Regions from separate parts of the Homo sapiens genome. Here regions 2, 3, 4, 5 and 6 are each linked to region 1. Evidence: fine-mapped expression QTL. A gene starts in region 1. Each other region holds a variant in brackets. All regions are shown on one strand. Distances are from middle to middle.

Region 1 (5,073 bases):
GCTAAGGTGTGTGTGGCCTTTTTTTTTTTTTTAATTAAAAAACAACGTAAGTGGGAGTGGAATGGGGTAAGGGAGGTGAATCATTCATCAAATGAAAATTTATTTAAATACCGTTGTCTGTGATAAAGGAATAACCATTTCAGAATAACACTGGAAGAATTAATTTAAATGGATGCACTTCCCAATATTGTTACTGTTTTCTTTGGTATTTCATTAACATTGTGAGTGGGGAGGTGCTGGGGTCCATGGTAAAAAAATAAGTAAGTGAAAGGCAAACAACTTTGCTTTCTAGTGGATTTCCCTTATTACCTAATGAGGGCAGCAGCTTACAAGTTGATTGTGTTCAATTCAACAAATTTGTTTTAGTACCTAAGTGCCTGCTATATGTACAGAGTGAAGAAAGAAATAACCCTACCTTTAAGAGAGTTTACGGTCTGGTTGTGTTGATTCACCTTCTGAGAAAAAATGTTATTTGCTTTCCTCAATTTTTTTCCTATCAAAAGTAAACATAGGTTCAAACATTCAAACCTATGAAGGCCTAAAAGGAAGAATCATCTTCAGTTTGCTGTGACGATTTCACTGAGTTTTATTTTAAAATATTCATTTAAAAATACATACAAACATATAAACCCATCAGGCCAGGTTCTAGTGATCTGAGATATAAGCATGATACAAACTACTTGGCTGCCGTGTATTTTTGTTTTATTTTAATCCAGGTGATCAGGTCTGTATGGGGAAAAAGCCCTGGGGCTTTTTCAAACAGGAAGGGCCCTCCTCCCTCTGAATGCCCGCAGTGCCGCCCTGTGCACTTTACAGAACAAGGAGAAAGTCAGTTTCTTCAAACTGCTTTTCTAAAGAGCGTTTCCATTCGTGGTCCTGGTGATTCCACCATCTTTTCTTCACAACAGTGACGGTTCTGGAATTTCTACACAGCCTGAGGGGCTGACGGGGTAGACCAGGTGACTGGGAAGGGGCAGTGGCACATGACAAAAATTTGAGGAAACGTCCAGTTTCCGTTTCAGGGAATGCGCATAGGGGAAAACGCAAGTCCCCACGCCATCACGGGGCCCTCCACCGCGGCCGGACGACCCCTCTCTCGGGAGTGACTGGGGCAGGGCACCTGGCCTCAGGTTCGAGCGGAGCCTGCACTGAGAGGCAGGAGTTGGATGAACCACTTGTAGGGTCTGCTCCCAGCTACCCAAAGCGAAAGGGTGGGCGAAAAAGCATTTGCAAAAGAATACATTAACCTCACAAGGAACGACCCCCACCACCCATCCTCCAGCGCCCAAGGTTTCCCACGAAGAGGTCGCCGTCGCCCTTCTCCAAGTTGGGTAGAACCTATAAGGCATCACCAACTGCATCTCAAACCAACCAAGCAAGTGACGCTCCAAAACCTCCCTAAATACCCTCTCTCCCCAGCATTCCGAACGCAACATCAAGGGCGAAAAGAGGCTGCACAAATCACGTAGAAAATTAGACCGCCTCTTTCCATGGCGATAATCGAATTAGCCTCAAATTAAACGTGAAATTGGCCCTCTCCGGCTGTGGAGACAAAGCCCCTATTGTCCTGCTCGGGTAGCGGCAGCAGCAGTGCCCACCCCGCCCCGGCCAGCCTGGTCGGTCCCCGCCGCTGGGAGGATGAGGTCCGGGCTGGACCCGGGAAGAGCCTCAGCTGGAGAGGACGTGGACGCGCCCGAGGCTCGGCTCCCTGGGCGGCTGCGGGGCTCCGGGCAGGAGGAGAGGGCGGGCGAAGCAGAGGGAGCGGGCGGGAGTGGGGAGGGAGGAGTGCGGAGGGCGGAGGGCGTGCGGGAGGGATCCCGGGAGTGCGCTTGTGTGTGTGTGCGCGCGCGCCCGCCCCGCGCGCTCCTCTCCCCGCCCCTCGCCCCCTCCCTGCGAGCGCCCTCCTCTCCTCCTCCCCCCGCCCCCCGCGCTCCCGCCCAGCCCCCGGAATCAGTGCCGCTGTTGCCGTGCAGGCTGCGGATTCCTCCAGTCCCTCCCTCGGCCGCCTCTCCTCCCGGAGCGAGCGCGCAGCCCTGCGCAGCAGCGCCCACTGGTCCCGTCCTGTGAGCCCCGGCCCCAGCCGCGGACAGACCCGCGGAGTCGCCTCCCGGCCCACCCGCCCGGCCGCCGAGGAGCGGGAGGAGGACGGGACCCCGGCGCCCCCACCCCATCCCCGGGAGGTAGGTAGGGGGCCCGAGGCAGGGAGATGCCAACTCACTGGGGCTGCCTCCCGGGTGGGCTCCGCGGCGGCGGACGGGCGGGAGGAGGGGCGCGGGCCCAGGGCCGGAGGACGCCGCTGCCCGCCTGCCCTGCGCCCGGGGAGCCGCGTGGGGGCAGGGAGGCTGCAAAGCCCGGGCGGGGGCGGCGCGGGGAGCCCGGGTCGCGGGTGCTCATTGGTACTCGGATGATGCGGGACGAGGGGCGGCAGGCTCTGCGGTGAGGCGGCAGCAGACCCGCCGTGCGCACCGCTGCCGTCCGGCCCCAGCCCCGGCGCGGCGCGGCGATTCCTCCTCCCTGCCTCCGCCGGCGCCTCCCTGCAGCCGGGCGCGGCGGCCCCTGACGCGGAGGCCCCTGGCGCGGAGGTGGGTGCGGAGCGGACAGCGGACAGCCGGAGGGTCTATTTTCAGGTGCCCTCTCTGTGGCCCCGCGGGTGGGGAGCGGGGGCGGCGGTGACAGGGCCGGGCTCTGCGCGTAGCGGTGCAGGGGATGCGGCCAGGCGTGGTCCCGGCTGCGCCGCGCTGCAGCTGAGCCGGAGGCGGCGGCCCCGCGCCCCCACCTCCGCCCCATCCCTGCGCTTGCTACCCTCGTGCGCCCGCCCCCCCCCCGCCCTTTCTGCCGTCCCCACTCTCCCAGGGCTGGGCGTGAGCCGCCTCCGGGCGCCGAGCCGCCGCTGCGCCCGCCCTTCAGCTCCTGCCACCCTCTCTTCAACAGGTTTGTCTCAGCGCAGGGACCCTCCGGGCCTGCTTTGGGTAGGTGGGCTGGCTCGTCATCACCCCCCACACCACGCCCACGGCCCTCTTTTAGGGGGCGCCTTCTCTTTGTTTTTGTGATAGGAAAGGTGCCAACTGCTGCCATCAGATGAGGAGGGGGTGGGGATCAGAACGCAAACCTCTGTCCATTATTTTTCCAATCGAAAGCCAGGCCAGATAGTAAGTGAGGACAGGGTGCGTGTGGGGGTGCTTCGGCGGAGCAGAAAATTGAATTCGGTGGGGTTTATTTGGGCGGGGATGTGCTTTTTTGGCAAGATGGATGGCTCACGGTGCCCTCGCCGTGATGCAGCACAATGCAGCAGTATCGCAGCTTCCTTGGTTCTCGCTGGCGGGGCTTGGCACGGCCGCTCGGCGCCTGCGGCCCCCGCCCGGCCCCACCCAGGCCCGGGGCTGCCCTTGGCCGAGGCCTGGAGCTGCTGCTACCTTGTCCTGCAGCTTCTGCTGGATGTGGCGTCAGGAGGACCAGGTCAGCTAGGTGTGAGCAGGGGAGAGTCTTTTCTTTTGGGATGATCCCTCCTGCACCTCTTCTTGGGCTGCGCTCTGCCGGAGGGGCGCCCTGCATCACCAGTGCAGGCAGAGGGGAGCCGGCCTGTGGTTGCGGATCGGAATCTGATCTGCGACCAGGGGACCTGAGCCATAGGGAGGGGCTGCAGGAAGGACTGGGCCCAGTGGTGTGCGGAGGCAATGTTGCAGTGTGGGGAGTCGCAGCGTTTTTCTGTGGATCGTCCATAATCTGTAACCACAACCCAGCTATGCATTAATTTTTTCTACGTGAAAAGTTGGTGTTTATTAATTGGACCTTCACAACTGTGACATTACAGTACCTCGTCTGTCTTTGGTTAATACCAAGTATGCATTTTTTCTGTAGGAAACCATTTTTAAATGAAATGATTAATGCATTTTGGGTTTTATGTCACTAAGACATTTATAAGTATATTAAAATTCAGTAGGTTGTTTTAAAAGGAATTTATATGTTTTTTAATGGATAGTAAATGATTCCTTTAGCTTGTATTTTGTTTTCATCGTTTGCTTTTTCTAAGTCAAGTACAGTTGCATTATTTGGATGCTTTATTAAGGATTATTAGGTGTATGAGTGTCATGATGGGGGCTAAATTGGTATTCAGATTTCTATTGATTGAGGTAGCCAAGTTAAGTGTCCGGGCGTAATTAATGGGATTATGACAGTAACACTGCGTTTGTGTTTGTTTATATGTATTTTTTGTATACATATTTTTCACAGCTGTGACTGGGGAGAGGGTGGAGAAGGGCAGACCACCAAGGCCTCTTGACTGGCATCTAGTCAGAAGGAGATGGTTCCCAGTGTTCTCATGTTTAGTCTCGGCCAGGACACAGGGAATTTCCCTTCTAAATGCCATCTCTATAATTCATTATTCAGTGTGGGATGGCAAATGGGATATATTTCAAATGTCAACCCAGGCTTTCCTAAAATGTTTAGGTGAAAAAGGAAATTTCAATATGCTAGTTGGAAGGGAAGGTCAGTGTTTACAAGCCAAGGGCGTGCCTGCTTGTATTTTTAAATATTTCTAATGAATCCAAGTTAGTTGCTTTTGATTTCATGTGGCTCTGCAGAATAGAACTGCATGTACATTGTGTGGTGTATGTGCGTTATTTTGAGTTTCTCTAATAGCCATTAAAATATGAGACTTTTTGTGCTGGTTGTGTAAAATCGTGTTGCGTACAGATTTTTATGAATGTTGTTCCCATGGATCATCCAAACGTTTTGGATTTACTTTGTTGTAAGAAATATCCTGTGTTGATGTCACAGGAGGTTTAGCTGTTCTGACTTACACAGCAGGTGCAGAATTCTGTTGGGTTAAGCTCTTTGTAACTCTGTCATTACTGGAGTGACCAAAACCTTCATCTGAGAGGAGAAGTATTGGGCAGTGAAGGAACTGCTGTCACTAGGTCGTCTCCCACAGTTGAGGTTTTCTGTGAAGAACTTCTCTTGGGCAAGACTAGTAACAACTATCTGTGATGTTGCAGAGCAAATGAGAAGACCTCCCTCTACTTGTGACACATCCTGAGCAGAGGCTTGGCATTGGCAGAGTTTCCTGGAAGGGTT
Region 2 (5,073 bases), 130 kb after region 1:
TTTTTAAAAAATATTTTTAACTTTTGTGGATACATAGTAGATGTATATATTTATGGGGTATGTGATGTTTTAATATAGGTATGTGATGCTTAATAATCACATCGTGGAGAATGGGATATCCATCCCCTCAAGCATTTATCTTTTGTGTTACAAACAATCCAATTATACTCTTAGTTATCTTTAAATGTACAATTAACTTATTATTGATTAATTCACACTGGTTCCCACCTTAGCTCTCATCTTAGAAGAGGTAGTTGTGTTGCTTTGCCTCTTATTTTCGGAGAAAGCCCCCATCATAACCTCAGCTCCCTCCAGAGTCTTGGCTTCTTATGGATTGTGACTTTATGCGGCTCACCTTGACGTACGACTGTGACAGAGGCAGGACCCTGGTGACAGAGCCTCATTTCTCAGTTATTGTGGGTCTCCTCTCAGAAGTTGTGCCTGCAGTGCCTTGGTCTCCACATTGGCAAACTGGGGTTGTGCCGCTCAGAAGAAAGGCCCTCTGGAAGCTGCAGGAGGGACTGCCCAGCAGATGCAACCTGTAGGTGCCAGGTCATAGAGAGCTCATGGTGGGTTTTGTAGTCGGCCCATCAGACAGTTACTAGCAGACAATTGCATATTTGCTTCACATGCATTTAGAGCAAATATTTACATGTGTTTTGTCCATGATGCAAGTTAAACAGTTAAGGAAACTATTGTAACTCAAATTCTATTTTTATACAAATCAGCAAACATGAATTTAAGGCCTTCAGACTAGTCCGTCACAGGGAGGACTTCAGTCAAAAGATTAGTTTCCTTCCTGTTGCTGCCTCAAGATAACAGTTGGATTCTCTGTTATCAATACAGCCAGCTGCCTGTTTCCGGCTTCCTGCTCTGTGTATTTTGCATGTTACTCATGGGAAATGATTTATTTATTTTTTCAAGCTAAGGCATATAGGGGGACTCCACCCTACCACTATTCTTTTGTTTTGAGTTAAGATCCTTTTTTATTCTTTATTTTAAAACAGTTCAAGAATTAAACTTTAATATATAAATTGTTAAAGTTGCAACAAATTAAGTCTTGTGACAATTGACCTGATTGGGTCATGTTTAAATAATGTTGTAATATGTTACAATGATGTCCTAATCACACCGTTGTGTATTTTGCAACTTCACTTTACCGTACAGGTATGTGGTGGCAATTGCCCAAAGATAAAACAAGCAAACAAAAAACAGAATTTGTCAAACATTTTAGTTTGGCTCTGGACCCATTTTAGTCTGAATGACAGCACCACAAAATTGCATTTTTATCCGTATTTCAGACATTGAGGAATTGCAAGAAGCAGTTCACCTGTCATATATTTTTAGTGCTATACAATGACAACATTTAACTGCCTAGGGCCTGTCTTTGTGATATGAAATTTCCCTCCTCAACAATTTCAGTGAGACCACCACCAACAATAAGATTTATCGAGAACCTAGTTGTTGGACACTGGAGGTTTGCTGACTCATTGAACAAATGTTTATTGTGCACCTCCTTTATGTCATGTATATGCTAAAGCTCTAAACATGAATAGGATTGAGCCTTTGCCTCTGAGCCAACTGCAAGTTAATTGAAGAGATAGGACACAAGACGTATAATAAAAGATGAGAGACCACATCCCATCAAATGATGATTGCTGACATCTGATAGGAGAGGGCCTCTTGGTAGAACTAATCTTGGCTGGATCTTAAAGGAAGGGTAAGAGAAAACTGCCTTCTAGGTTAGAAGAATGATAGAAGCAAAGATGGGAAAAAGCAGTGTGCAAGGTGAGAGTTCAGAGCATGAGAGTAAGACCTGTTAGGTTGGAACAAAAGACGGCATGTCAGGGAAGTTCCCAGATGAAGCTGATGCCTTAGGAGAGCCCGTTTGGGACCTTTAAATGCCAGGTTCAGAGATTTGGACTGTCTTCTGGATAGCTGGGGTCCGTTGAAGGTTTTGGTGCAGTGCTGCAACTTTGAAAAACCACTGATTGAGGAACATGGCTATGGTAGTGATGTTTAAGGTGGATTAGAATGCGGAGAGAGGCCCAAGGCAGGGGAGTTCAGTTGGGGTCTGAAACCACCCAAATTGTGGTGAGCTTTGTTCAAAACACGCAAAAATAGATTGTCAAAATTATTCTCTTAGCAACTGATCTTGTACTTCTTTGTAATGTCTTTTTGTTATTTTTTAACTTTTTATTTTGTATCCCCAGCTAGATTTCTAGTTCATTGAGGGTAAGAGACTTTATCTTAGACACAGAGTTCTAGGTAAAGTATGCACTTTGTAATATTGGAGCTCACTAATACTCTCAATTTCAGATTAGTCAGCTAACACAGTATTATTGATTTAAATAGTGGGGATATGTTCATGGGATGATTGCTTCCTCCCCTTTTGATTTCTTCTTAACTTCCATCCCTGTAATTCCTTTCTTTCTTACTTTGAACCCAAGACTACACCTAACTTAACTATATGTCTGTGCAAAGCAAAAACTACATGATTGCTGTCTCTTACTTAGGGGGTAGGCCATTATCTTAGCACAATTGAAGAGCCTGATAGAAAATATTACTGGGTTATACGTGCAGGTTCAGACTACTTGAAAAGTAAAAGAAAGATTCCTTCTCTTAAGCCAGGTATAAATTCAGTCTTTAGGGGAACAATGAATAGGGTCTTTTGACAGTTCCTGATTCTATGTTTCCTTTTTTTTCCATCCGGAGATGTTCCATGCCTTCAGGCTTTCCTTCATTCCTGGCTCCCATCCCTTTCCATAACCAGAACTGTGGCATATGGTGAATATAGTTGTGTTTAGCACTCTGTGCTGAGGGTATTGCAGAAAGATGCCGTACAATCATTTCCATCATGCA[G/A]TGCCCTTCTGCTCATCAAAGCTATTTCTGTATCCTAACTTGACTCACGCTAACACAGTGTTCATTTTTTCAGTTATAGCAAATTCTCTAGAGTAAATAAATATGGGGCTGGGTGCAGTGGCCCACACCTGTAATTCACTTTGGGAGGCTAAGGTGGGAGGATCACTGGAGACCAGGAGTTTGAGGTCAGCCTGGGCAATCTAATGAGACCCTATTTCTACAAAAAAAAATGAAAAAGCCAGGTGTGATGGTGCATGCCTGTAATCCTAGTTACTCTGGAGGTTGAGGTGGGAAGATTGCTTCAGCCCAGGAGTCCAAAATTACAGTGAGCTGTGATCACACCACTACACTCTAGCTGGGGTGACAGACTCCTTCTCTAATATATTCATTGGTTAATTAATTTAAAAATATAAATTAAAAAATTACATAGACGCATTACAGCCTTTCAGTATTTATCACAGTCATTCCCTAAAAAGAAAAGAAGTAGATGTTATGCTTCTAGAAGAGGATGATGGTGGAGAGGATATTCACAGCCCTTTTTTTTAACCATTAAGCAAATGTGTTTCTCAGTTCTAAATATTTCATACTTTTTTTTTTCTTTTTTCTTTTTTTTTATCTGAGACAGAGTTTTGCTCCTGTTGCCCAGGCTGGAGTGCAAAGGCACCACCTTGGCTCACCGCAACCTCTGCCTCCCGGGTTCAAACGATTCTCCTGCCTCAGCCTCCCGAGTAGCTGGGATTACAGACATGCGCCACCACGCCTGGCTAATTTTGTGTTTTTAGTAGAGATGGGGGTTTCTCCATGTTAGTCAGACTGGTCTCAAACTACTTCTGACCTCAGGTATTCCACCTGCCTTGGCCTCCCAAAGTGCTGGGAATTACAGGTGTGAGCCAACGCGCCCAGCTACCTCATCCTTTTTTTCTAATACATCTTCTAAGAATTTCAAGTTGTTTATCAGAAACCAAACAACAAAAGATAGTGAATCTCAGTATATGACAGGAGAAGGTGTAGCTATGCATCTTAATCCCTCTTGCCTGGCTGGAGTGGGAGAGAAAGAGCCGAGGACCTCACCACTACTGGCTGGTGACACTTAGCAGCCCTTAACCTCACTGAGCCTTGGGCTTTGCTAGAGATAACTCTAGCATCCCACCTACCTAATAGTTTGCTGTGAAGATCTAGTGAGCTTAGAGAAAGTATGAAGTGCCATTCAGATGCATGGCAATGTTATTGCAGACACACCATCTTATAAAATTCCATCTGGAGGAAGGAGCACCATACTAGGATTTCCCTTATAATTTACTCCTTCTGGGAATCAGAATCTGATGTAAATGCCACTCACTTGAGGGTGGGTTTCTTGTCTCAGTAGTTCTCATTGACAGTAGTTAGCTAATTTACTTATCTCTGAGCCTGTGGAACTAAAGGCTGAGCTGGTTGGGTCTTCACACTCAGAACCATTTCTGGTTCCTAGGTTCTCGGGGCTCCAAGGTCATTTTGGTAGAATTTGTGGTCCTGAGAAGCTTATTTTGAGACCATTGTTAGGAGCCCTTCTTTCTGTCTCCCACCCCTGTCATGTCACAGAGACAGCCTCACCACGTTCCTCCCACGGAGGGCTGCTGGTTCTTTTTGTCCTTTTTTCACTTTGTTTTCCACTTTCCTCCCTGGACTGCCAGAGCTGCAGCTGCCTCGAGTCCTGGGTTGTGTTGGTAGGTAAGTGATGTCCAGGCTGCCTAGAGGTGGGGTCCTCAGGTGTGATCTTGGATCCCACTTGTACCACATTGTACAGCATTGCAAAGAGGGGATGGTGAGAAGTGTTTGAACCTGAGGGCCTTTACATGGAGAAGTGAGGAGACCTATTCTGCATACTCTGAAGGTGGTGCAAGCCATAGTGGGCCACAGAGACAGGTCTAGTCTTGATGGAGACACCATCCCAACAGATGGAGAGTTACCCAATAATGCAGCAGACCCTTTACAAAATAAGGACTTGCGTTAGTTAGGATGGTGAGATGGTGGGTAATTCTAAGTCTTGTATCATGGAAACACTTTTTTTTTTTTTTTTTTTTTTTTTTTGAGACAGAGTCTTAACGCTGTCGCCCAGGCTGGAGTGCGGTGGCATGATCTTGGCTCACTGCAACCTCCGCCTCCCAGGTTCAAGTAGTTCTCCTGCCTCAGCCTCCTGAGTAGCTGGGTTACAGGTGCGTGCCACCATGCCCG
Region 3 (5,073 bases), 50 kb after region 1:
GTGGGACTGACTTGTTCAAATCTCCGTTAAAGCAAATGTCTGATTAGGAGAAAAGTAAGGGAGTAATTTGTTAGGAAAACTACTTTCTGAGGTGCCCCCACCTCCCCTCCTTCCAACCTGAAGAGGCAGAGAGGTTTGTGTAAACAAAGGTCCTGCAAGGCACAGCTGTTTTACATTCTGATGTTCTATGACTTTCTTAAATAAAAACCTTTTGGATTTTCATATCTATTTAGCTAGTAGGAATATTTCCTCCTTTTTCGGAGAATAAAATCCTAGACTTAAGGATATTCCTTGGGTGACTGAGAAGTCATACCAGCCTAAGCAGTACAGCTGGCCCCCTGTATCCATGGCTTCTGCATCTGTGAATTCAACCAACCATGGATAGAAAATATTTGGGAAAAAAAATCCACAAAGTTCGAAAAAGCAGAAGCACGATTTGCTGCTTACTGAGAACTGCATTGAATCCATGTGAGTAAGGTGATGTGTAGGCGTTGTATTAGGAATTATAAGTAATCTTTAGGTGATTTAAAGTATTTGAGAGGATGTGTGTCGGTTTTATACAAATACTACACCATTTTATATAAGGGACCTGAGCGTCCATGGATTTTGGTATTCATAAGAGGTCCTGGAACCAATTGCCCATGGGTAGTGAGGGATGACTGTATTTTCTAATTAAAAGGTTTTTTTTTTAATAAGCAAATGTTTTACTTAGTACCTTATAATATTTTAAAAAGCGTAAAATTCCCAAATAAAGTAATTGGTTTAGTGATAAATATTTCCAGTGGCGTACTTAAAATGAATGTTTTCATCAGAATGCAGAAGCTGTTTTGAGAACTTTTTGCTCATTATTTTCAGTGGGGTTGTGAAATCCAATGAAAACGTGTATAAATGTTTGTAGAAGAATACTTTGTTTATAGAGTGCAAATATTTTCTTGATATGACAACACCCCAAACAAAGAATGGTTACAATTAAAGTAATGGTGATTCAGTTAAACATAGAGCTGGAAAAGCCATTATTTTGAAATATCTTCTGAGCCTCATTGAAGAGAGAGTGTCTTACACACCTTGGGAACCAAGTTTTGCATATTATAGTATTACCACATTGTATTCGATCACAAGAATGGTGTGAATACTTGGTGGTTAAACAAATTATTGATGCTTGTTAGTTGGATGAGATCTTGGAATGCATGCATCCCGGCTTCCCACACAGTACTCAGTTCTTTCTGTAGCTATCCTGTTGAATATATGGAGAGTACAGTATACTTTCAGGCAAGATGGTCATTTAACAGGTCATTATTTAAACATTGTTTCAGTGTGTGCTGTGAAAACAACAACAATAACAACAACAAATCGAATACCTCTCTGCTCTCTGCATTTTTGGAGCGCTCTAGCTGTTAGAAAGTACCTCCTAACCCCTAGCCACTGTGAAGTTGTTGCTCCCTGCCTGCTGGGAAATCTGTGCCAGCTCTCCCAGGAAGGCTCCTGAAGCTGCCTGCACATACCTGCCAGGTGTGTCTCCTGGACTTTTCCCCAGGGGTCCTAGCTCCTGGGCTGGGTCTCCTAGGTGTCTTACAGCCTGGCTGCCCCTTCTGGACACTCTTGGCTTGGTCAGTACCTGGGGTGATTTAACTTGGCGTCTAACAGTGAAGCTTCCTTTAGTTGTATCTTCTGCTGTTGCTTCACATTGAGCTTGCCACGTTTTCCTTGAATTGCTGTCAGTTTTTCTCTCTTCCAACCTTGGGAACTTTATTTTTAAAAATCTGGGCCAGGCGCGGTGGCTCACGCCTGTAATCCCAGCACTTTGGGAGGCTGAGGCGGGCGGATCTCGAGGTCAGGAGATCGAGACCATCCTGGCTAACACGGTGAAACCCCATCTCTACTAAAAAAACAAAAAATTAGCTGGGCGAGGTGACGGGTGCCTGTAGTCCCAGCTACTTGGGAGGTTGAGGCAGGAGAATGGCGTCAACCCGGGAGGTGGAGCTTGCAGTGAGCCAAGATCGCGCCACTGCACTCCAGCCTGGGCAACAGAGTGAGACTCCGTCTCTAAATAAATAAATAAATAAATAAATAAATAAATAAATAAAATCTGAATGCAAGACTGTATGTGTGCTTGAATAATTTGAATCCTCTCTTGGCCCTGGGACCTTCCCCGTGCTACATGTGCTTTCGGAGGTTGTGAGGAAAGGGCTGACCAGGCCATGGACCTGTCCCAGAGCCGGCACCCTTGAGCATGGCTGCTCAGACAGCAGTGAAAATTTGTCTTAGAAATTTGAAGTTGCTTTTGAAGCTTTTTGGTCAGTGAGAGAACTTAAAAATTCTCATGTAAATATAATTTAAAAAATATAGATGACTCAATCTACAAGAGCTTATCTGTTTGGTTTTTTTTTTTCTACTTATAGTTTACATTTGAAAAAATTTACCACTTGATGAACTGAGTAATTTTTTCTTCTTGATAGTAGAGGAATTGGTAGGGAAAGTGCTTCTAATACTCTTCGAAGCTGAGAAAATTTTAAGTATAAAGTTTGTTCATTAAACATTTGTGTATTGTTGTCTGGGAGCTAGACACTATATTTAGGGATACATTGATGAAAAAGAGAGAAATACCCAATAGTTCTTGGAGAGTACAGTATACTTTCAGGCAAGATAGTCATTTAATAAATACACAGGTAATTATTTAAACACCATCGTAGTGCGTGCTATGAAAAAACAACAAACCAGTAGGAACATAGAACAGGAGAGGCCCTGGGCTGGGACTAGGGGTTTCAGAAGAGTCTCTCCAGAGAAAGTAAAGTTTAGGTTGATCTGGTTCTCTCTCTTTTTTTTTTTTTTGAGCAACAAGACTGTTTATTTCACCTGGGTGCAGGCAGGCTGAGTCCAAAA[A/C]AGGAGTCAGCAAAGGGTGGTGGGATTATCATTAGTTCTTACAGGTTTTGGAATAGGCGGTGGAGTTAAGAGCAATGTTTTGGGGGCAGGGGGTGGATCTCACAAAGTACATTCTCAAGGGTGGGGAGATTATATAGAACCTTCTTAAGGGTGGTGGAGATTACAAAGTACATTGATCGGTTAGGGTGGGGCAGGAACAAATCACAATGGTGGAATGTTATCAGTTAAGGCTATTTTCACTTCTTTTGTGTATCTTCAGTTGCTTCAGGCCATCTGGATGTATACGTGCAGGTCACTGGGGATATGATGGCTTAGCTTGGGCTCAGAGGCCTGACATTCCTGTCTTCTTATATTAATAAGAAAAATAAAATAGTGGTAAAGTGTTGGGGTGGGGAAAATTTTGGGGGGTGGTATGGAGAGATAATGGGCAATGTTTCTCAGGGCTGCTTTGAGCAGGACTGGGGCAACATGGAAACCTAGTGTGGGAGAGATGAAGCTGAAGGAAGATTTTGTGGTAAGGGGTGATAATTGTCGGGTTGTTAGAAGAAACATTTGTCGTATAGAATGATTGGTGATGGCCTGGATATGGTTTTGGATGAATTGAGAAACTAAATGGAAGACACAAGGTCTGAATAAGAGAAGGAGAAAAACAGGTATAAAAGGACTAAGAATTGGGAGGACCCAGGACATCTAATTAGAGTGTCCAAGGGGGGTTAGTGTAATTACTTGCTTGGTTGGCAAGCTTTTAGGCTCTATCTTTGAGTTTTTTTTAATGTTGTCATATACCAGGCCAGATTGATTTAGGTAAAAATAGCACTCTTCATTTAAAAATATAGAGTCCCCTTTTTTTTTTTTTTAGCAGTAAGTCGAGACCTTTGTGATTTTGGAAGAAAGAGAAATGCAAAGCCAGCAATTGTTTGTTAAAGAAGGATTAGAAACGGCTAGGAGAGAGTAACTGAGATTGATAGTGTGATAGAGATAGCTGGGGAGAGGTAGAGGGTGGCATAAGAACGGGAATGAGAATAAGAGTAAGTATAAAAGTAAAGAATAGGACTTCATCAGGGTGAAAGTATTGGAGGGTACCTTGCCACTGAAGATCTTCTATCCACTTAAAGAGAGACTTAAGGGTGGCAGTTTGAGGAAAAACCAGGTGCCACTGAATACCAACAGCCTGAGAAACTGCTTGGGTGATTTGACTAGTAAAGGCCGGTCCGTTATCGGACTGTATAGAGGTGAGAAGGCCAAACCGAGGAACTATGTCTGACAGAAGGGAATAAATGACCACGGTGGCCTTCTTAGACCCTGTGGGAAAGGCCTCTACCCATCCAGTGAAAGTGTCTACCCAGACCAAGAGGTATTTTAGTTTCCTGACTCGAGGCATGTGAGTAAAGTCAATTTGCCAGTCCTGGGCGGGGCAAATCCCCGAGCTTGATGTGTGGGGAAGGGAGGGGGCCTGAGAAATTCTTGAGGAGTAGTAGAATAGCAGATGGAACACTGAAAAGTGATTTCCTTGAGGATAGATTTTTGCGATGGAAAGGAAATGAGAGGTTCTAAGAGGTGGGCTAGCGGGTTCTAAGAGGCGGGCTAGCGGCTTGCAACCTACATGGAAGAGGTTATGAAATGACGAATAGAATGGGCCTGTGAGACTGGAAGGAGATTTTTCTTTGGTCCAAGAACCATTTGCTTTGTGTGGGAAGAGATGGGTGGAAGTTTCAGCGAGGGAGTAGGTGGGAGTGGCCAGATGAGAAGGAGGAAAACTGCCCTGAGGGATAGAAGTTGGAACGCTAGCTGCTTTTTTAGCTATCTTATCAGCATAGGCGTTGTCCAGAGCAATGGGATCTGAAGCCTTTTGATGGCCTTTGCAGTGAATGACTCCGGCTTTCTTTGGAAGTAAAGCAGCCTTGAGAAGAGTTCTTATTAAAGAGGCATTATTGATGGAGGACTCTTGCATAGTGAGGAAACTTCTTTCTGCCTATATAACAGCATGGTGGTGCAGGATATGGAAGGCATATTTAGAGTCAGTATAAATATTGATGGGTAGTCCCTTTGCAAGAGTGAGGGCTCAAGTTAAGGCAGTGAGTTCAGCTTGCTGAGAGGTAATGGAGGGGGGCAGAGCGGTAGCCTCAGTGATAGATGTGGAAGATACTATAGCATAGCCTGCCTTTGCTGGTGAGTGGCGATTAGGCCTGGTGG
Region 4 (5,073 bases), 110 kb after region 1:
CATCTTTGCTGGGATTTGACTCCAGTCCCAGCTGCAGCTGCTGCCACACCTGTACCCCACAGAAGTTGTGATTCCTTAAACCTGCCCTGCATTTTGGCACCCTTGACACCCTGCCCTCTTGGTTTCTTCTGCAGGGAATCATTTCATGTGTCAGGATCAGTCTTTTGAGGTTCAGTTCAGATGCCACTTATTCTAGGCATTCCAGGAGGTTGGGGAGGTCAACATCCCTGCTTGGACTCCCTTCCTTTTAAGATTTGAAGTTTCAGCGCTTGATCATTCACCTGTGATTTTTCATTACTGCCTTTTGTTACAGTTCCAGTCTTTGTCTTTTTGTTTTCCCTGTATTTCGTGAAGTCTGGGAGCCTGAAGACCAAAGTCTGAATAGTCTGTCTTACACATACAAGCCGCTAAATATTTGCTAAAGAGCAAAATTAATGAAGTCAGTGTTATAGACTCCCTTATTGCTGTGGTTCCCAAATTGAGGTTCTCAAAATGAGGTCCCCAGGTCAGCATCAGCATCATCTGGGAATTGGCTAGAAATGTAAAATCTCAGATCTCCACTTCTCACCTACTGAATAAGAAATTCTAGGGTGGGTCCTACCAATAAGTGTTTCCAGCTACTCTGCCAGGTGGTTCTGGTGCACACTAAAATTTGAGAAATAGTCCCTTATTGGATCATTTGTACAATCTTTGCAAAATTTTGTGGTGGGGATGGAGAAGCAGACTCTTTAAGTTGCTCCCAAACAGGAGCAGGTATTATACCTGATTTCTTATAGAAGAATGAAGAGTTGGGGGAAAATATGTTTTTTAGAACAAAATTGTGAAACAGTGGGAAAAACATTAGCTACTCAGGAATGGACTCTGTCCTGCTTAAATTAGAGAAGCCGTTGAACATCTGTCTCAGCCACCTCTTCTGCCTCAGATGACCCTCAGGTGGGGTCAGTTACCTGCCTCAGTTCTCCCACAGTTGGCTCAAGAGCCACTATAGAAAGAGATATAAGTTTAGAAAAAATAGAGATAAACCTAATAGTGTGTGTAGGCTCTAAGGATAGTTCAGCAAGGCATCAAGGTTAGTTTCACTTATATTCTTAATAAATAATCTATTGAATTTAACCTTAAAAAACAAAAATCCCAGCAACTTGGCATCTGTAAGGGAGACAGATCAATATCTAGGCTGCTTTCCTTATTTGAATAACTGCCAGGTCTGCTTCACAAGATTGTGTTGACCAGCAAATGATATGATCTATATGAAGTTTCCCTGGAAACATCCATGTACTATTAAAATGTGAAGGATGGCTGTTGTTTCCATGACTGTATTCCTTTTAAAGAAAACTTCTACATATAAATGAACACTGACAATTCCAGTATTGTTGATTACTAGTAAATATAGTACAGCAATTCAAGTAAGGACTTCAGGGTTTGTTTTTTCTTTTAACCTTCTGGAAAATAATGTGGACAGTGACAGAGCATTAAGTTTTTAGTTAATGATAGCTCCACCTCTTGTGCACATAATCAAAACAGACCAGGTGGGGTTTAGCCACTTGTAGATCCTAGTGCCTTTTCTCTCTTGACAACTTTCTATCAACTCTGAAACCCAGCTATGAAAAACAAATGAAAGGGGGAAATAAAGGATAAGGGCATTGTAAGCATTTTTCTTTTTTCTTTTTTTTTTTTTTTTTTGTTGAGATGGAGTGTCACTGTGTCGCCCAGGCTGGAGTGCAGTGGCATGATCTCAGCTCACCGCAACGTCCGCCTCCGGGTTCAAGCAATTCTCTTGCCTCAGCCTCCCGAGTAGCTGGGATTATAGGCGCCCACCACCACGCCCAGCTAATTTGTGTATTTTCTGTAGAGATGGGGTTTCGCCATGTTGGCCAGGCTGATCTCCAACTCCTGACCTCAGGTGATCCACCCCCCTTGGCCTCCCAAAGTCCTGGAATTATAAGCGTGAGCCACTGCGCCTGGCCCCTGTAAGCATGTTTTTCAAATGTTTAATATTCTCTGCTGCATTGACTTAAAAGTTTGACAGGCCAAGCTCAGTGTCTCATGTCTGTAATACCAGCTCTTTGGGAGGTCGAGGCAGGCAGATCACCTGAGGTCAGGAGTTCGAGACCAGCCTGGTCAACGTGGTGAAACCCTGTCTCTAATAAAAATACAAAAATTACCTGGGCATGGTGGTACACGCCTGTAGTCCCAGCTACTCGGGAGGCTGAGGCATGAGAATTGCTTGAACCTGGGAGGCAGAGGTTGCAGTGAGCCAAGATTGCGCCACTGCACTCCAGCCTGGGCGTCAGAGTGAGACTCCATCTCAAAAAAAAAAAGTTTGATGATTGTTAAATCATTTTGTTGGTGCAGAGAACCTGCCATTTAAAATGGCAGTTGTTGGCACTAACTTAGACTACTTTAAAAGCAGGAAGGATCCTAGGAAATAAAACACTAAAATAAAACTTTAAAAAATACAGGGCTTGCTCTTTTGGTATTCTACTTACTTATTAACAAATATTTATTGATTACCTGCTTTCCAGTGAGCAGCTGTCGTCTGGTTAAAAAGTGCATGGGTGTGTTTCAGCTGTGCTGGGAATGCTGGCTAAGCCAACTGATTAATAGAAGCAAGTGGAGAAATAAACTTGATCTAGGTAAGAGGTGAGGAACTGAGGTAGGGGAATCTGTGCAGGTTCAGGGTTACTGGACCTTAAAGTACAGAGTGAGGATGGGGTGGTAGGAAGGATTCTAGAAGGATAATAAAGGATGCAAGGCCCTGTTAGGTAAAGGAGTTTGGACGTAAGGCAGTGGGAAGGTACTGGAGGATTTTTATTTTATTTATTTATTTATTTATTTTTGGAAACAGGGTCTCTGTCACACAGGCTGGAGTGCAGTGGCACAATCTTGGCTCACTGCAACCCTCTACCTCTTGGGCTCAAGCCATCCTTCCACCTCAGCCTCCCAAGTAGCTGGGACTACAGGCATGCACCACCCACCAT[GC/G]CCAGCAATACTGGAGGATTTTAAATAGGAGAGGATTTTAAATCTGGATTTTTAATTTAATTTTATTATTTTTATTTGTATATATTCACGGATTGCAAGTGCAATTTGCTACATTCATGTATTGCATTGTGGTGAAGTCAAGGCCTTGAGTGTATCTATTACTGGAGCAATGCACATGATACCCACCAGGCAGCCTCTCATCCACTTCTTAAATATAAATATACCTATTTACATTTATATATAAATTTCTTAACTCTGGTCACTGAGGCATGCTTTATTCTCTCTCTATATATATAGAAAGGCTAGTCTGACTGCTGGTATGATGATCGTTTTGGAGGGTGCTGGTCAAGGAAGGAGACAGAAGACCAGTGTTTTATTTGCTGGAGTGAGAAACTTAGAAACGACATAACCTCCTAGAATTTTGAAAGTGAAATAGGGGACTTAGAACCTTGTTATTCAGTATAGATAGATGACTTGGGGTTTGTTGGAAATACAGCATCTCAGGCCGACCTCCCCACAGACCTCCTAAGTCAGAATCTCGTCTTTTAAAAATCCCCAAGTGCTTTGTATGCCTGTTCAAGTTTAAGAAGCACTGCTGGCAGTGCGTGGTGGCTCACGCCTTAATCCCAGCACTTTGGGAGGCTGAGGCGGGCGGATCACCAGAGGTCGGGAGTTCGAGACCAGCCTGGCCAAGATGGTGAAACTCCGTCTCTACTAAAAATACAAAAATCAGCCGGTTGTGGTGGCGCACATGTGTAATCCCAGCTACTCTGGGAGGCAGAAGTTGCAGTGAGTCGAGATTGCACCACTGCATTCCAGCCTGGGCAACAGAGTAAGACTCTGTCTCAAAAAAAAAAAAAAAAAAAAAAAGAAGAAGAAGCACTGCCTTGGAAGTAATGGTGTCTGCCTTCTAACTCCTATGAACAGACAAGGAAATAGTTTCATTAAATGGAGGAGTTTTTGGTTTTTTTGAATAAACTGGATTATTTTAACTAAATATAAAAATAATCTTGAGTATAATAGTTAATTAAAGGAAGTTTAGTATTGCTCTAGAAGATTACAGGGCTTTAAAACATAGTTAACTAATTCTGAGCTTTAGAAGTAAGTCTTTTATAGAATTTGGCTGGGATTTTCCTATTTGCTAGTCCTGCAGTTCTAGAAATTTGTGAGGTAAAAAAACAGTTTCTTTTCATATTTACCCATTGATATTAATGGAGAATCACAAAAATACCCTGGGTCAGTTTCTCTAAATTATTCCAGAATTTCAGCATGATGTCCTGGGAAGTAGAAATTTATGAGTCCATACCTGTTTTATGACTTAAACCTTTTAAATACTTTAAAACTATTTTTTTCAGAAACAAAGCACAAATACTCTTCTTCAGCCACACTTCATCTTAGTAGAATGATCCTATATTAAATGAACGTTCCTGTTCTTGCAGTTGGTTAGACTTCAGTCTAGTTTCATGCACATCAAACTTACCTAGTGGTGCCTTCAGGTTTTAGCGCTAATAGTGGATTTGAAGTATGTGAAATATCTGTTACATGGTAAGTGCTCATTTCCTCTGAGTTTGTAGGTGAAACTTTAAAATTACTGGTTATTGATTGGGTAGGGGAGAAAAAACACCTGCTGAAACTTGTTGGCCGGAAGTTTTTACCCCTGGGAAGAAGAAAGGAACGGGGTGGGGGAGATAAGGGAATTCAGTTCTTGGCTGGCAACACTCCAGAACCGTCCTGATGGAAGGGTTGTGGCCAGTTGAAAGCAGCAGTACTGGAGAGGGGACTGGGGGTTGTTCTTTCAAAGGCAGGGTTGAAGGTTATTAATGGACTAAGTTAAATTTCTAGCTGTTCCTTCCTGTTACTCTAGATACTTTTTATATATTTATTATGTCACAGCAGTATTGACGCCCTGAAAAGAAAGAAAAGTGAAAGAATAGTTCACGTAAGATCCCACAAGTCCTACAAATTTTAACTTTCCAATAGTTAATATATATAAGCACACACATATACACACACGTGCAGTTTAGAAGTGTTAATATAGACGAGTTTTGTCTTGGCTTTTTATTTTTTACTTAACATCATCTTAAGCTTTTCATA
Region 5 (5,073 bases), 170 kb after region 1:
TACATGCCCCGGGAGGGGAAGCTCATCTCTGACATCAACAAGGTAAAGTGGATCTGGACTCTGCATGGGCCCTGACCTCCTGGAGGCTTCAGGTTCTATCACTAGGTCTCGACTGCTAAGAGGACAAGAGACTGGAAGGGGCTGTCCCCACCTGCCGAATTGACAATTGGCAGCTGGTGCTCAGGTGTGGCAAAGGACCAAGCAAGCAATGGTACCGGGTTAGGCTGCTGGAGGCTTCAGGGGGCAATGTTAGATTTTATCAAACCAGCTTTGGCGTAGGCTATACACCTTGCTACTCAGATACATATCACTTTACTTCTCATCTGAGGCAATTGTTTCAAACATCTTTAAATTACAGAAAGGAGAAATTGAAACCTTATTTCATGTGTTTCATAGTAGTTGTGGGGCTTAGGATGTTGGCTTCTTGCATTAGAGATGCTGTCAAATAAGCAATTTTAATCATCATGCCTATTATGCCTGCAGTTATAGAAATTCACAGCAGGCATTATTTCCAACTAGAAAGAAATTTGAAAAATTCTAGAACTTTGGTCACTTGTACAGAACTACATTCCTTTATGCTGCTCATTAAAATTTTTTTTTTAATGGAGGCAGGGTCTCACTATATAGCCCAGGCTAGTCTTGAACTCCTGGCCTCAAACAGTCCTCCCACCTCGGCTTTCAAAGTGCTGGAATTATAGGCGTGAGCCACTGCGTCTGGCCCCACTTAGATTCCTTCGAGTGGAAGGTTTGATTTTTTTTTTTAGGTGAAGAAATAGATTTCCTAGGAATGAATTTAATATGGACAGTAGGTCAGGATTTTGAAAGAAATTTCAGATGTGTAAATTTTTTAAAAGTGGCCCAGGGTGGAATGAATGAGAAATTCATATGAATTCTTAGAAGAATCATTTATCTTTTTTATATGATCAAAGCTATTTAAGATAATTTATTTCCTCTTAAAGTAAGAGATTTATAATTTACTTATATTGCTTCATAGCTACAGTTTTGTTTTCCAAGTACAACACAGAATCTTTAGATTTAGATGACGGAAGAGTGTTCCCATGAGGATACACTGAGAGAAAAACCCGTTTTTTTCCTCAAGGCTTGAGAGTCAGTGAGAGTGGGAATGGGATTTCCCATTCAAGCTGTCAGGTCCTTTTGAGAAATATTAGCTGTTGACTGTAACCACGGAAGTTTCCTTGAACACTGCAGGAAACTGTGTTTGTGTGTGTGTGTATTTTCATTTTTGTAGGCCTGGGAAAGACTGGAAAAAGCGGAACACGAAAGAGAACTGGCTTTGCGGAATGAGCTCATAAGACAGGAGAAACTGGAACAGCTCGCCCGCAGATTTGATCGCAAGGCAGCTATGAGGGAGACTTGGCTGAGCGAAAACCAGCGTCTGGTGTCTCAGGTTCTGCTCTTGACATTATTAAAAAGACTGTTGCTAGGGTAATCTAGAAACACAGACCATCCCCAGGGGCATAGGGCCAGAGGACAGCTGCTTATCGACATTCATTATTCTGGAGGAACGTCAGGTCACCTTGGCCCCTTCCCATTAAGAGGATGTTTATAATTTCTAATATACATTTCTATTTATCTAACTTTTCATAGATTTGGAAGCAGCTCAAGCAGAGTTTGTTTTAGAGCCATTGAGTGTGTGTGAACTGTTCACATTTATAAGTTTTAACAGTTTCTCTCTTTTCTTTAATCTTTGACCAACTAATCCTACGAGGCAGTTAGACTGGTTGTGAAATAAACAAAAATGGCTTGCTTTTCCACCTGGCTTGACATAAGCTATCACCTGCTCTAGCTTTTCAGTAAGGTACTAGATACGAACTGGGCCCTTCTGCAAAATGAGCAGTTACTAGTTTGCTTTGAGGAGGGCATCTAAGCTCAAGGCAGAGACCAGTGGGGTGGGGGACTCAGGAGTCAGATTTGGCTTTAAGACCACCAGGGATTAATGTGTGCTCAAGATTTCATGTCTGTTCTTTTTCCTTTTTTGGAGGGGGGGTGGCGCGGGAAATAGGTTTTTTGGTTTTGTTTTTGTTTTGTTTTTGAGGCAGAGTTTCACTCTTGTCATTCAGGCTGGAGTGCAGTGGCGCAATCTCGGCTCACTGCAACCTCTGCTTCCCAGGTTCAAGCGATTTTCCTGCCTTAGCCTACCAAGTAGCTGGCATTACAGGCACGTGCCACCACGCCCGGCTAATTTTTGTATTTTTAGTAGAGACAGGGTTTCACAATGTTGGCCAGGCTAGTCTCGAACTCCTGACCTCAAGTGATCTGCCCGCCTCGGCCTCCCAAAGTGCTGGGATTACAAGCATGAGCTACTGTGCCCGGGTGGATTTTTTATTTTCCTTCTTTTCATTCCGTTTCTCTGTAGGACAACTTTGGGTTTGACCTTCCTGCAGTTGAGGCCGCCACAAAAAAGCACGAGGCCATTGAGACAGACATTGCCGCATACGAGGAGCGTGTGCAGGCTGTGGTAGCCGTGGCCAGGGAGCTCGAGGCCGAGAATTACCACGACATCAAGCGCATCACAGCGAGGAAGGACAATGTCATCCGGCTCTGGGAATACCTACTGGAACTGCTCAGGGCCCGGAGACAGCGGCTCGAGATGAACCTGGGGCTGCAGAAGATATTCCAGGAAATGCTCTACATTATGGACTGGATGGATGAAATGAAGGTAAAACCTGACCGAAAGGAAGGACGACAGAGCTGATCCAACCAGGGCTCTCTTTTCTGTGACTCATTCACTAAACCCCTACGTACAGCTGTGTGCCTTGTCTAACTGCCCACATGTACAGCTAGAGAGGAGCCACATCACCCATGGGAAGATTGCTAGCTCAGGAATTAAATGAGACGTGAAGTGTGAAAAAGTTGTAGAGACCAGTTCAGTAGCCAGAGCTCTGTTTCTGTGACTTAGATATATTCCAGTGTAGGGAATCAATCACATTGTGGTTTTCTTTATTTTTAAGTTTTCAGGGTTAAACTAACTTACCGTTTCATTGATCTGTGAG[T/C]GAGTGGTACTACTTTGGGCAGGGGTCCCGGAGAGGTGGTATGGGGAGAAGGGAGGAGTGGTAGGTGCCATGGACAGAGGAGAGGTCAGGAACCAGGCAGCCAGAGTTCTGATTGTGAGTGCCTGAGTTGCCTAATCCTCTTTGAGCCCTCTTTCTTGGTCTTTAAATGGAGATTGTACTTACTATCTACCTCATCCAATTATTGCAAGGATGGAATGCGGTAGTATGTGCACAGATCATGGGATGGGCTGGATGGCAGTGGCTGGTCATGCCATTTATTGACTGCTCTTAGCATAGAGTTCCAACCTTTCCCCCTTCCCAGGAAGAGACCTGCTATCATGCCATGGCCCTGTACCTGTTCATGTCCTCCAATGCAGGCCATGGAATGCTCAGCCATGCCAAGCAGTTCTCCAGCTGGGAGGCCTTTAGCCTTGTAGACAGAAGAAAATAGGACAGTTTTCAGACAGTCCCATGAAGCTTCCTTTGTCTCAGCACGCTGTGTTCCCAAGCTTGACCTTATGCAAGAGATTCCCTTCCCAGGATATAAGCTGTCATCTGTTGCCTACCTCTTGGACTGTTCCTGACAGAGGGGCAAAGTCATCTGATACCATCAGTTTTCCCTCCTATTGTTCCAGATTTACAGTGTTCTTAGGTCTGGTCTCTCTTGACCTCTCAAAATAGAAATGTTCGTAAAATGTAGCAGAGAGGGACTTTTCATTTTATAAATCATGATGCACATTGTAACTCAGTTGGTCCAGAGACTTCCTCAGAAGTAAGAGTGAAGTAGAAATCTCATCTGGCGAGGATGTAGAATGAGGCCCCCAAATTTCGCTGGTTGATGGAAGAAACAAGAAAATATCAGTGGGTTCAAACTTAAACTCTAGAAGTTGCTTGGGGTCTACTAAGCAAGACAGCCACCTGACCCTGCTCTCCTTATTGGTTTAAAGATGTGGCTTGTAAGCTTTTCAAGTAGATTGTTTTCCCATTGATTGTGTAAGTACAGTAGAGGCATACCAATAAGCTCCTAACAGAGGAAAAACATTCACTTACAGGCTCAGCAACTTCTAAAAGATTTCTTTCAACTTTGAAGTGACCAAGTCTATCACCTTTATTTATTTATTTTTGAGTAGTTGTTGCAGCGGTTTCTTCTTGAAGCTCCAGTTTATATTTTGGAATCTTTCATACAGCACCCCCGCCCACGCTCCCCACTGCCCCCTCCCCCCCACCCTGGCCCCGCTGGCCCTCACCATCTTTTTCTTCTATTCTGCACTTTTTAGTGTAGATTTGACTTACTTATTCCAAGTTTGGTGATCCTTAGTTTGTGATAGCTCTCCTGACTCAGGCCTTCAGGTATGATTTGTTTTGTTCTGGTTTGTTGGCCATCATCTTCCCCTGAAGGTGTGGGGTCCATGGCAGACTAGAGGGAAGGCATAGCTTCATTGCTGGCTCTCTGCTTGTCGAAAGATGATGTGATGCTGAAGTCAAGGCTATAGTCACAGATGTCCTTTTGGTTGCTTCTTGTGCACAGGTGCTAGTATTGTCTCAAGACTATGGCAAACACTTACTTGGTGTGGAAGACCTGTTACAGAAGCACACCCTGGTTGAAGCAGACATTGGCATCCAGGCAGAGCGGGTGAGAGGTGTCAATGCCTCCGCCCAGAAGTTCGCAACAGACGGGGAAGGTAAGGATGGCCCATTCCAAGCATTACCTCCGGGTCACCAGAGATTCATATTTATAGAAACACAGTGGGGCTTTTGAAGTTACTGTGCCACTATACATTCCTGGTGGGTTTGTCATGGGAGCATGAAATACGGTGGAGTGGCCTTCTGAACACTAACTCCATCTTGTTTTTCTGGAATTGATACATCCTTTCCTTAAATACGCAAATGCTGCCTTTGCTTTGAGTGGCTTGGTGTTTGGCAGTGAGACTTTGTCATACCTCAGTCTCTCTGGCCATGCACCGACACCCTGGTGTGGCTGTTCCAGCAGCTCCTGGCTTTCACAGCTGGTTGCATATACCTCTCTTTGGAGGATGTTTAGAATGATTTGGTTATGCTT
Region 6 (5,067 bases), 180 kb after region 1:
AGCGGTATAAGGAGGTGGCAGAGCTGACGCGGCTGCGGAAGCAGGCACTCCAGGACACTCTGGCCCTGTACAAGATGTTCAGCGAGGCTGATGCCTGTGAGCTCTGGATCGACGAGAAGGAGCAGTGGCTCAACAACATGCAGATCCCAGAGAAGCTGGAGGATCTGGAGGTCATCCAGCACAGGTGAGCGGGGCGCTGGTCAGCCACTGGCCTGTTCCTTGTGACCACCAGTGGCCCAGGAGGTGACCACCCTGTCAAATTGCCATTTCAGATTTGAGAGCCTAGAACCAGAAATGAACAACCAGGCTTCCCGGGTTGCAGTGGTGAACCAGATTGCACGCCAGCTGATGCACAGCGGCCACCCAAGTGAGAAGGAAATCAAAGCCCAGCAGGACAAACTCAACACAAGGTGAGCACGTGGCCAGCAGTGTGCCAGCCTCCCACGTGTGGGACTGGGGAGGGTGAGGTCACTCATCGAGCTTTGCTGTTGGGAATTTCCCACATGGGGTCATCGACATTGCAACACTGATGTCATGGCATTGGCACCTGCCTTTTGACATGTCCTTGTTTTGTAAGAAGTGTCTCTCAGGGCAACATCATTGGTTGCAGGAGGATTATCTGAGTCAGCCCAGCATCTGCCCCTCGCCACACCAAAGTTAGGGCCTTGGTTTGACCTGTGTCCAGTGTAGAAGGTATTAAGATGACACCTGTGCTATCCATTTTATAGTAACTTCAGGAACAGGACTCTAGCATGTTTAACACTTAATTTGCCAATGAAAGTCCTGATTGTCAGGGCAGACCTTTGTTCCAGTCTTATCTTTCTGTTGAGTAAACATGTTTGAGTAGGTTATGGCACCTGGCCCCAGTTTTGAAGGTTACCATCAGTCTTAGATTTGGAAAACGTTCATTAGGTAGAGTTCAGAGATGTGTAAAATGTGTCACAGACATGAATTAATTGACTCTGGGAATGGATATCTTGTAATTGCTCACATTGGAGCTCTGTAACACATTCCTCTTCGTGACAGGCTTTTTCCAGATTACATTGCATCCCTGAGCTATTTCCATTATATTTGGTGTTCACAGTTTGAGTGAGATGATTTTCCAAAAAAGCATGTAGTCAAAGCACAGATGGAGAAAACAGATAAGCAGCATTAACCCATCACTGTTCCTTTTGCAATCCAGCCATGGTCAGTCTTCCCTTTTTCACACTCGCTGTCTGCCCCTGCACTCACAGGTGGAGCCAGTTCAGAGAACTGGTTGACAGGAAGAAGGATGCCCTCCTGTCTGCCCTGAGCATCCAGAACTACCACCTCGAGTGCAATGAAACCAAATCCTGGATTCGGGAAAAGACCAAGGTCATCGAGTCCACCCAGGACCTGGGCAATGACCTGGCTGGCGTCATGGCCCTGCAGCGCAAGCTGACCGGCATGGAGCGGGACTTGGTGGCCATTGAGGCAAAGCTGAGTGACCTGCAGAAGGAGGCGGAGAAGCTGGAGTCCGAGCACCCCGACCAGGCCCAGGCCATCCTGTCTCGGCTGGCCGAGATCAGCGACGTGTGGGAGGAGATGAAGACCACCCTGAAAAACCGAGAGGCCTCCCTGGGAGAGGCCAGCAAGCTGCAGCAGTTCCTACGGGACTTGGACGACTTCCAGTCCTGGCTCTCTAGGACCCAGACAGCGATCGCCTCGGAGGACATGCCAAACACCCTGACCGAGGCTGAGAAGCTGCTCACGCAGCACGAGAACATCAAGAACGAGATCGACAACTACGAGGAGGACTACCAGAAGATGAGGGACATGGGCGAGATGGTCACCCAGGGGCAGACCGATGCCCAGTACATGTTTCTGCGGCAGCGGCTGCAGGCCCTGGACACTGGATGGAACGAGCTCCACAAGATGTGGGAGAACAGACAAAATCTCCTATCCCAGTCACATGCCTACCAGCAGTTCCTCAGAGACACGAAGCAAGCCGAAGCCTTTCTTAACAACCAGGTAAGGTTTGTTCCTGCCTTTGCTTCCTTTCGGTGAAAGCAGCCCTGGCTGCCTTTTGAAATGTTTTGGCTGGGGCAGCTGGTTTAAACCACACCTGTATGGAATTATATGGATAATTTAGAGACTGATTTTTTTTTCCCCATACTCTTAAGGCATTGAAATCCATCACGTTGTAGGGGACAGGAATTGAAAGTTGCCATAAGAGCTGCTTTGCCTTACAAAGTACTGTTTGATTTCAACTGCCATTGAGGATCTCTTATGTGTTCATAGTATGTCTTCATAATTGAGGTATTGATCCAATTTAAAAGATACAGTGAGGGCCAGGCATGATGACTCACTCCTGTAATCCCAGCTCTTGGGGAGGCTGGGACAGGAGAATCACTTGAGCCCAGCAGGTCAAGGGTGAAGTTAGCCGTGATCGTGCCACTGCACTCCAGCCTGGTGGCAGGGTGAGACCCTGTCTCTTAAAAAAAAAAAAAAAAAAAAAGTACGGTGAGGATTTTTTTTTTTCTTGAGACCAGTCTGTCTTCTTGCTCTAGAAGGGTCAGGGACTTCACCTGAGGACACAAAGTAGAGATTAGAGAAATAAAAACAGCTGAGGATAGTCACCAACTTCAGGGCTGTTACTGTCTCAAAGAGAGAGTATGAAGGGTA[C/T]ATTGCTGTTGCCTTGATAGGCACGTGAGAGGACCCTTGAGGCTGATACACAAAGCTTTGGTTCCTTTCCTCACTCTCTTTGGAAAAAAAAATTTAGAGCATTAACCCCTGAGGGAAATTCGGTCAGTTACAGTGTCCCACTGGGTTTTTTTCCTCCTAACTTTTAATTTGATGTGATTTAATTATTTCATGTAAGTGTAATGAAGAAAGTGTTGTGAACTATGTTGCACGGAAATGTAGAACACAGGAAAATGAGATCCTTCATTGATCTGCTATGATTTGTTCCTCTTTTTAAATAAGGAGTATGTTCTGGCTCACACTGAAATGCCTACCACCTTGGAAGGAGCTGAAGCAGCAATTAAAAAGCAAGAGGACTTCATGACCACCATGGACGCCAATGAGGAGAAGATCAATGCTGTGGTGGAGACTGGCCGGAGGCTGGTGAGCGATGGGAACATCAACTCAGATCGCATCCAGGAGAAGGTGGACTCTATTGATGACAGGTACAGTTTTCTGAGGTTCTTAAGGGAGCCTTGCACCTTGGGGCTCTCAAACTTCTGAATCATTGGCCAGAAGCCCTTGGGAGTTTAGGTATAAATTTCCCAGTGGGCAGAATATGGGTGCCCAGCAGAAGTTCATCTACCCATACAGAAAATTAGTGAGCTGTGCATGACTGCCTGAGAATGTGGGTCTGGTGAGACATGTACAAGTGTCCACAAAAGGAAAGAAAGCCTGAGAAGCCAAGCTAATTCTTAACCGAGGACCTGTAAGAGCCGTAGTGCTGCATCGCGATCAGGTGTAAGCCATGCCCTTTGAGGATTAACACACGCTTGTGTCACCTGATAGGACCCCTGGCGCCAGGTATTCCCAGCCAAGCCCGTGTTCCCCTTCATCCATGAGAAAGAAGCCTGTCAGGAGAGTGGGAAGGGAGGGTGAAGCTTGCTTGTTCTGAGTACCTGGCAAAGCTACAAAGGAACATTACCTGGACTTTTTTAGAAAATTGGCTTGGATAGTGCTGTAATAGGATCTTTTTCATGATGGAGAGGTAAATAAGAGCAAAGGTTATTTTCCTCTTCTGCCAGGGCATCTCCAGGATTGGATACACTTTCTTCATTTCTTGTTTAAAATTATTTTTTTATTTACGTGTGTGTGTGTGTGTGCGTGTGTGTGTCTGTCTGTCTGTCTGAAAGATTTCCTCCCCGGCTGGAGGCCAGTGGACTCTGTTTGACCCTAACTCTTTGACTCACTCCTTACTCTTGCCTTGCCCCGGTTACTTAAGTTGGAGGTTGGGGCAGATCAGGGGTTGGATGCACTAGCACAGGCCAGTCTGGGCCAGCCACTGGATCAATCACTAGCCCCTGTTCCAGTTTGGGTTGAATTTAAGGGCTTGCTGTGAGACTGATGTAATCAAAAAACAAGCCCTTCCTTTCTGCCTCTCTTCTGGCCTTCAAGTGTGTTGGAAAGGAAAAATATTCCTTTGCTTACCACATCTGAGAGGGTTTCCTGGGACCCCTGGTCAGGTTGACTTAAAATAAGATGGGTGGAGAGGGGATTACTCTGTTTCCAATAAAGATTGAGCTCCTGTCTTTACCACTTCCAATCTTTTTTTCTGAGCTGATTCCCAGGCTGAACTATATGTTCTAGGGTGGTATTGTGGAATAGAGAATAACTTATGTTAATTATAATTTTGTATCTGTTGCTTTTAAAACAGCTGCAAAAAAGAAAAATAAATCCACCAAACCCTCCTTAAATGAGCATGAGAAACAGCAATTGGGCAAAGCATTCATAACCTAGGGAAAAAGAATTTCCTTTTTTTGTAATATTAACTCTGAGTATTTTGTAAATAAGATATCCTATGTACTTCCATGTTAGATGCACACAGCTGGTTTCCTGCAGGCGGGCTTGGCTGTTAGGGATGTGTGCATTCAGGCAGGCATGCAGCTGCCTTGCTGCTTCCTCGGTTTCTTTTTATGTCCCCAGTGCTGCAACTGCACAAAGCTGTTGGAAGCAGATGATGCTGTCTAGACTCCTGGATATGATAAAACGTTTCAGCAGCAGCAGCCCTCAGTTGTGGCTTAACCTTCATTTTGCCCTTGACCAAGAGCCTGGGCTACTGGTGTTCCAGAGCTTCCTTAGGATTCCTCAGTTTTAAAAATGAAACGTAAAGATAACCCTGTACTATCAATAAGCATAATAAAGATGGAAGGAGGGAGCTTTCCGATGACCTGCCATCAGGAGAACTACATTTTCTTATTTTTCTCCATTGATGTTAACTGAATTCTGATTTCACTTTAATATCCCCAGAGGCCCACAGAATTGAAACTGACCCTAGAGGGTACTTGTCAGTTATGAAAACACACACATCTGTGAGTTCCAGGTGCTGTAGGAGCACAAACTAAGTAAACATCTAAACCTTCAGAT

Which allele goes with the higher level. Positions count from the first base shown, and alleles are read on the strand shown. Sizes are in standard deviations (SD) of each study's normalised expression. Not every link is listed here.
With allele G in place of GC in region 4, the expression in tibial artery of the gene that starts at base 1,989 in region 1 is higher (small effect, 0.24 SD a copy in GTEx).

The links. PIP is the estimated chance that this variant, and not a neighbour inherited with it, causes the effect.
Region 2: its variant is the best candidate, but not a certain one, in a credible set for the expression of SPTBN1 in blood mononuclear cells (TOPMed, PIP 0.59).
Region 3: its variant is the best candidate, but not a certain one, in a credible set for the expression of SPTBN1 in gastroesophageal junction (GTEx, PIP 0.54).
Region 4: its variant is the best candidate, but not a certain one, in a credible set for the expression of SPTBN1 in tibial artery (GTEx, PIP 0.57).
Region 5: its variant is the best candidate, but not a certain one, in a credible set for the expression of SPTBN1 in amygdala (GTEx, PIP 0.89).
Region 6: its variant is the best candidate, but not a certain one, in a credible set for the expression of SPTBN1 in blood mononuclear cells (TOPMed, PIP 0.85).

Annotation. Positions count from the first base shown.
Region 1 is chr2:54,454,339-54,459,411 of GRCh38, forward strand. It overlaps SPTBN1 (spectrin beta, non-erythrocytic 1), which reads left to right and starts at 1,989. Exons shown (of 36, transcript NM_003128.3): 1 at 1,989-2,180.
Region 2 is chr2:54,588,922-54,593,994 of GRCh38, forward strand. All of the region lies in intron 2 of SPTBN1 (spectrin beta, non-erythrocytic 1), which reads left to right. LOC124906008 (a long non-coding RNA gene) reads right to left here and starts at 513. Exons shown (of 3, transcript XR_007086322.1): 1 at 1-513. RefSeq lists an enhancer at 694-743. The variant G/A (reference allele first, on the strand shown) is at 2,863.
Region 3 is chr2:54,504,080-54,509,152 of GRCh38, forward strand. The region is part of intron 1 of SPTBN1 (spectrin beta, non-erythrocytic 1); the gene reads left to right. It also overlaps the pseudogene C9orf85P1. Among named protein-coding and RNA genes, the nearest start is that of SPTBN1, 50 kb to the left of the region's middle. The variant A/C (reference allele first, on the strand shown) is at 2,881.
Region 4 is chr2:54,564,524-54,569,596 of GRCh38, forward strand. The region is part of intron 2 of SPTBN1 (spectrin beta, non-erythrocytic 1); the gene reads left to right. Among named protein-coding and RNA genes, the nearest start is that of SPTBN1-AS1, 8.4 kb to the left of the region's middle. The variant GC/G (reference allele first, on the strand shown) is at 2,979.
Region 5 is chr2:54,623,555-54,628,627 of GRCh38, forward strand. It overlaps SPTBN1 (spectrin beta, non-erythrocytic 1), which reads left to right. Exons shown (of 36, transcript NM_003128.3): 10 at 1-42; 11 at 1,250-1,408; 12 at 2,378-2,680; 13 at 4,543-4,696. Among named protein-coding and RNA genes, the nearest start is that of SPTBN1-AS2, 54 kb to the right of the region's middle. The variant T/C (reference allele first, on the strand shown) is at 3,015.
Region 6 is chr2:54,629,620-54,634,686 of GRCh38, forward strand. SPTBN1 (spectrin beta, non-erythrocytic 1) reads left to right here. Exons shown (of 36, transcript NM_003128.3): 14 at 1-184; 15 at 273-410; 16 at 1,236-1,992; 17 at 2,947-3,149. Among named protein-coding and RNA genes, the nearest start is that of SPTBN1-AS2, 48 kb to the right of the region's middle. RefSeq lists enhancers at 1-105, 335-384 and a silencer at 575-634. The variant C/T (reference allele first, on the strand shown) is at 2,647.